Homo sapiens: one gene and its partner. The protein of the gene in region 1 interacts with the protein of each later gene in a biochemical or structural test. Each region holds a gene or a part of one and is shown on either strand. Other genes may lie near its edges.

Region 1 (2,971 bases):
GATGATGAATTTTCTCAGATGACCCTAAGAAATTGTTTTACCAAAAACAAAGTGATCTATTTGCTTTGGGAGGAACTCCCTTCCTTTTGTTTCTCTTCCCTTCCCCCCTTCCCCTGCGGTTGTAGAGCCCGTTCTGTCCGGTCGTGGTTCTGTCCAGCCATGATCCGGGAGTCCTAGCTTGCTAATGGAACACCTGAGATGTTCCTTATGGCTCAAGGCTTGAATTGAAGGTGGGAACCACCTGAAGCCTCCGTGGGGAGGCCTTGCCTGAGGTTAGGTGTCTGGCATGAGTGCCGCCGGCTGGGTGTGATTTAGGTGAAGGACATCTGTAAAGGAGCGTGTCACAACCTCTGTTCCTTCTTCACATCTAGTGGTATCCTGAGGTGCGGCACCACTGTCCCAACACTCCCATCATCCTAGTGGGAACTAAACTTGATCTTAGGGATGATAAAGACACGATCGAGAAACTGAAGGAGAAGAAGCTGACTCCCATCACCTATCCGCAGGGTCTAGCCATGGCTAAGGAGATTGGTATGGAATCCTGTGTTTTTCCTCCTCCTTGTACCTCTTTTATTGTAGTGACAGAGACTGGAGTCCAGTCTGGGAAAGGAGGGTGTGTGTCTCCCACTCAGGGCCTGGTGTACTCTTGGGGAACCAGCTGGCAAGGCCCTGTGGGTCTTAACGTCAGCGTTGGAAGGTGGAAGCAGGGCTGGGAGCCGGCAGAAGGCGCCCGGGCCCCAGGAGCTGCCTCCCGCTGGTGGTGTGATCAGAAGAGAGTGGGGTCGAGTGTACATTGCCGTGTGGTCGTGTTTCCTGTAGGTGCTGTAAAATACCTGGAGTGCTCGGCGCTCACACAGCGAGGCCTCAAGACAGTGTTTGACGAAGCGATCCGAGCAGTCCTCTGCCCGCCTCCCGTGAAGAAGAGGAAGAGAAAATGCCTGCTGTTGTAAATGTCTCAGCCCCTCGTTCTTGGTCCTGTCCCTTGGAACCTTTGTACGCTTTGCTCAAAAAAAAACAAAAAAAAAAAACAAAAAAAAAAAACAACGGTGGAGCCTTCGCACTCAATGCCAACTTTTTGTTACAGATTAATTTTTCCATAAAACCATTTTTTGAACCAATCAGTAATTTTAAGGTTTTGTTTGTTCTAAATGTAAGAGTTCAGACTCACATTCTATTAAAATTTAGCCCTAAAATGACAAGCCTTCTTAAAGCCTTATTTTTCAAAAGCGCCCCCCCCATTCTTGTTCAGATTAAGAGTTGCCAAAATACCTTCTGAACTACACTGCATTGTTGTGCCGAGAACACCGAGCACTGAACTTTGCAAAGACCTTCGTCTTTGAGAAGACGGTAGCTTCTGCAGTTAGGAGGTGCAGACACTTGCTCTCCTATGTAGTTCTCAGATGCGTAAAGCAGAACAGCCTCCCGAATGAAGCGTTGCCATTGAACTCACCAGTGAGTTAGCAGCACGTGTTCCCGACATAACATTGTACTGTAATGGAGTGAGCGTAGCAGCTCAGCTCTTTGGATCAGTCTTTGTGATTTCATAGCGAGTTTTCTGACCAGCTTTTGCGGAGATTTTGAACAGAACTGCTATTTCCTCTAATGAAGAATTCTGTTTAGCTGTGGGTGTGCCGGGTGGGGTGTGTGTGATCAAAGGACAAAGACAGTATTTTGACAAAATACGAAGTGGAGATTTACACTACATTGTACAAGGAATGAAAGTGTCACGGGTAAAAACTCTAAAAGGTTAATTTCTGTCAAATGCAGTAGATGATGAAAGAAAGGTTGGTATTATCAGGAAATGTTTTCTTAAGCTTTTCCTTTCTCTTACACCTGCCATGCCTCCCCAAATTGGGCATTTAATTCATCTTTAAACTGGTTGTTCTGTTAGTCGCTAACTTAGTAAGTGCTTTTCTTATAGAACCCCTTCTGACTGAGCAATATGCCTCCTTGTATTATAAAATCTTTCTGATAATGCATTAGAAGGTTTTTTTGTCGATTAGTAAAAGTGCTTTCCATGTTACTTTATTCAGAGCTAATAAGTGCTTTCCTTAGTTTTCTAGTAACTAGGTGTAAAAATCATGTGTTGCAGCTTTATAGTTTTTAAAATATTTTAGATAATTCTTAAACTATGAACCTTCTTAACATCACTGTCTTGCCAGATTACCGACACTGTCACTTGACCAATACTGACCCTCTTTACCTCGCCCACGCGGACACACGCCTCCTGTAGTCGCTTTGCCTATTGATGTTCCTTTGGGTCTGTGAGGTTCTGTAAACTGTGCTAGTGCTGACGATGTTCTGTACAACTTAACTCACTGGCGAGAATACAGCGTGGGACCCTTCAGCCACTACAACAGAATTTTTTAAATTGACAGTTGCAGAATTGTGGAGTGTTTTTACATTGATCTTTTGCTAATGCAATTAGCATTATGTTTTGCATGTATGACTTAATAAATCCTTGAATCATACGACTGGTAATACTGGTGTTTTTGAGACTTGATGAACAAGTTCCTGGTGTGTGTTTGTTTGCCTTGCTTTAAAGTCCTGGGTTGTTGGAGACAGTCATTTTCAATGCGTGTCTCCACACAGGAGGGACAGGGAGTGCCACCTCCAGGGGAGAACTGGGTGAGCCCAAATACGGCAGGAGTGGAGGTGACATTCATGTTTGGACCTGTCGAACAGTGGCGAAGCTCTGAGGGAGAAGCGCCTATCGGGGTGTGTGTGCACATCCTGGCCCAGAGCTAGGGGCTGAAGATGGAGATGTTGGGACCCTAGACTGGCCCTGGAAGAGTAGAGGTTGGTGAACCACATGCCCTTAAGATCCTTTCCAGAGGCTGAGTGCGTGGCTTACGCCTCTAAGCCCGACGCTTTGGGAGGCTGACACAGGAGGAGCGCTTAAGCCCAGGAGTTCTAGACCAGCCTGGACAAGAAAGAGACCTACCCAAAAAAAAAATGCAAGAGCCTGAAC
Region 2 (3,500 bases), on another chromosome or scaffold:
CCCCTCCCTCCTTCCCCAATAAATAGAGTGAACATCCTGCCCAGGGCCTCCCCCACCTTGTGGCATGGCGGGCTGGGGCAGGGCCTGGGGCGCTACATTCATGGCTGCCCAGGCGGGCGGTGGTGGGCAGGCCTTAGTGGGAGCCGTGGGCCCCGCACAGGGGCACTGTGCTGTCTTGGTTCTGCCCCTCCATGTCCATGTCCAGCAGTGTGGGCTGCACGCTGGGGGGCCCAGGGCTCTCCGGAGTGTCTGGCCTGCTGGGAGGCGAGATGGTGAGTGTCCGGCCGAAGGAGACCAGTTTCCAGGGGTCCAAGCGGGGGCGACTGGCAGCCGGCCGAGGTCTCGGGGCAAAGGTCAGGGTGGTGGGGCGGCCTGGGAACTCAGGGGGCCGGCGGCGGGCTGGGAACAGGGCCTGGGGGTCGGGCAGGCGGGGGAAGTCCAGAAGGTCACGAGGGCCTGGTAAGAGAGGTTCAGAGGAGGTGAGTGGGGTGGGGCAGAGGGTGGCATTAAAAAGCCCAGAGCTGTTACATGAAAAGCACAAGTTCTGGTTTCTCTCGAGAAATCCGTGGATCTTGCTGCATCCAGTTTCCATCTGTAGTGTGGCAGTGCTGGGACCTTGACCTAGACTGGGACCACTCCCAGCTGCTTGCTCCTCTGGGTGGACCCTGGCATGTTCCTCAACCTTCTGGAACTGCTGCTTAGCGGCAGCCTCGGGGGCCAAAGCCCTGGTCTTCCCGACTCTCCTGCACTGGGCTAAGCTCAGGCATGGCTTAGCTCTGAAGGGGGATAAAAATGGTGCCTCACCACGCAGGTGAGGAGCAAATAGAATAACCATAACTTAAAACAAGCAGCACAGTGCCTGACGTGGGTACTTAATAACACTGCTATGGCCGCATCTCCCACCCAGTTAACAGATGGAGGAGAACAGTGTCTAGGCTGTGTAAGAATTGGCGATGGTCATGCTGGTCACAACCGCTATAGGCACCTGCCTGGCCTTATAGGCATCAGTTTGCCGCCTGTGTCTCAGTCCCCTGGAGACCCCCGATGCCTCCAGGAGTGAGCGGTAAAGGGACACAGACCCTCCCTCCTCCACAAGAAGCAGGAGGTGGCTGCCTGAGGGGTCGTGGCTGGGCTGGACTTGCGACCCTGGCAGAGGAGGAAAGAAGGGGTTTTCTGTGACCTGGGTGCAGGGCGCCTCACTCACCAGGGCCATGGCCCGCGGGCTCGGGCGGCCCCCGCTGCCCCAGCGCCCCGTCCGATGGCGTCCGCCGGTGCCCGCGGCTCACAGCGCATGCAGCCGTGACGTGGGTGGGCGTGAGCGACTGGCGGGGGTCCTTCTTGAAGCTCTCCAGCTCCAGGTCCACCAGGGGGTTGGTGCTGGGCGAGGGCGTGGGTGTGGGCGCGGGCGGGGAGGGTGGTGGGGAGGGCGCGGCCGGTGCGGCCTCGTCACTGTCAGAGCGCAGCAGTGAACGCGTGGAGTTGCAGTCGGACACGGACGACAGCGACACGAGGGTGGCCGAGGGCGCCAGGCCCAGGCCGGGGCCCACGTCTTCGCGGCGGCCGTGGGGACGCGCGGGTGGGCTGAGGCCCCGCGGGAAGCGGCCGGCGCGGGGAAAGAAGAGGCCGTCGAGCCAGCGCCGCTGCTCCTCACCGTCGGCCGCGCGCGCCTCGGCCACGTCGGCGCCCAGGCCCACAGCCCCCAGCAGCGTGGCGCAGCCTAGCAGCGCCAGGTCGCAGCGCCGCCGGGCGCCGTGTCCCCACCGAGCGGGGGGCGCGGACGGCGTCGGCTCCCACGGCGCCCGCGCCCCCGGGGAGGGCTCGGCAGGCAGTGGCACTGAGAGGTAGGACGGGGTCGAGTAGGGGGAAGGGGGCACGCTGCTGCCTCCATCCTCTGCCTCCGCGAACTCCTCTGCAACCGGAGAGGGCCATCACTCCGCTGCAGGGCTGGCCAGGGCCCCACGGGGACTTGTGCCAAGGGACAGCCCCCGATGACCCCTCCAACAGCAAGACCAAGACCCACGAGCATCGTTCTTGAATCTGTCTCCAGGAGAAGCCTCAGAGAAGGGTGGTCCCTGCCCCTGGAAATGACCCCCCACGCCCCAGGGGCCACCATCTCCCTTCCCAGGAAGGCCTTCCACTCACTGGCCCAGTGAAACCTGGTCTCTTCGCTCAGCCCCAGGAGGCTCACCCCTTTGGCCAGGGAACCCCCACCCCCTTACAAGAACCCAGGCTCTTACCCATCTCATTGAGGCTGGCAAAGCCAGGGGCGATGGGTGTGTGTTTGGGGGACTTGCCCAGGTTGGGGGCACTTGATGACCACTGTTTGCTTCCTTCCCCCAGCCCCTTCAGCCTGCGGGGTCCAGGGAGAGATGGAGACCTCAGTCCTGTGGCCTGGAGCCTGGGAGCTGGGGCTTGGGCACAGGGTGGGCATGACCACACCACACCTCACCTCTCCTCTCCTCCCACCCGCTCCTTCTGCAGGGTGGAGCTGGGCCCCCACGTTCGTCCCTTCTTCTTGCCCCCGACCAGTTCTTCCTTCTTTGGGGGCCCACCGCGGCTCCATGTCCCACTTCCTCCACTGCTGCTGCCACTGCTGCTGCCACCACAGTCCACGGGAGTCACTGGGTCCAGAGAAGCCACTTGGTTACTGGGTGGAGGATCTGTCCCCACTGGGCTCCCAGCCTCCAGTGCCCCCAGCTCAGGCCCACCCTCCGCCTGGGAGTCCAAGGGCTCTTTTGAACTCCAGTCATGACCCTCCCTGCTATATATCTCCCCATAGCCCCCTACTGCTGTCAGGACAAGGTTCCAGCTCCTCCGCCTGGCACTGAAGGCCATGAGCGGTTCCCTGCCAACTCCTCCAGCCTCCCCTCCTCTTCACAGCCTAACCCTTCACCATTCATTCTGGCGGGCTGCCTGCGCTTCTGGTCTCCAGCTCTGGGTAGTTAGTTCCCTGGGGGTCAGCTGCCTTCATCTCTGTACCTGCAATGCTCTGGACCTATCTGGTGCCAGTGTTTGCTGCCATGGTATGGGTATTTGTCTCTGTGTCCCCTGCAGGACTGACCTCCTGGGCCTGGTACAAAGCAGGTGCCCAGACAGAGGGCAGGGGGGCTGTGGGTGGGGACAGTGCTGGGGTGAATGAGGTGTTGGAACTTGGGAGCTAGCCTTTCACCCTTCAACCCACCAGGAAACTCCGATGACCGTGTCTCTGCCATATAGCCCCGACTGTGGACATCTGTCCCTTCCAAGTCCCCCACCCTGGCCTGGCCTCCATCATCTCACTGCTTTCTCCACCTTTATTTCTTACAGCAGCCAGAGGGAAAAAGGTCAATTTGATTCCCTCAGTGCCTTGCTCGCATGGCTCTGGGGGCTGCCCCAGGGCAGTTAAAAGAAAATCCATACCAGGCCAGGTGCGGTGGCTCTTGCCTGGAATCCCAGCACTTTGGGAGGCCCAGGCAGAAGAATCACTTGAGGTCAGGAGTTGGAGACCAGCCTGGCCAACA

Evidence for each region. Proteins that work in one complex are often made in the same cells at the same time.
Region 2: the proteins of RAC1 (region 1) and MAP3K10 form a complex in vitro, tested with the Homo sapiens proteins (one study listed by BioGRID).

The regions. Positions count from the first base shown.
Region 1 is NC_000007.14:6,401,497-6,404,467, forward strand, and holds the end of RAC1 (ras-related C3 botulinum toxin substrate 1), read left to right. Parts: intron 1-371; coding exon 372-531; intron 532-819; coding exon 820-950; 3' UTR 951-2,471; downstream 2,472-2,971. UniProt on the Homo sapiens protein: Plasma membrane-associated small GTPase which cycles between active GTP-bound and inactive GDP-bound states.
Region 2 is NC_000019.10:40,211,926-40,215,425, reverse strand, and holds part of MAP3K10 (mitogen-activated protein kinase kinase kinase 10), read right to left. Parts: intron 2,622-3,500; coding exon 2,450-2,621; intron 2,351-2,449; coding exon 2,238-2,350; intron 2,038-2,237; coding exon of another isoform or gene 1,910-2,037; coding exon 1,205-1,909; intron 777-1,204; coding exon of another isoform or gene 760-776; exon of another isoform or gene 525-759; intron 457-524; coding exon 134-456; 3' UTR 1-133. UniProt on the Homo sapiens protein: Activates the JUN N-terminal pathway.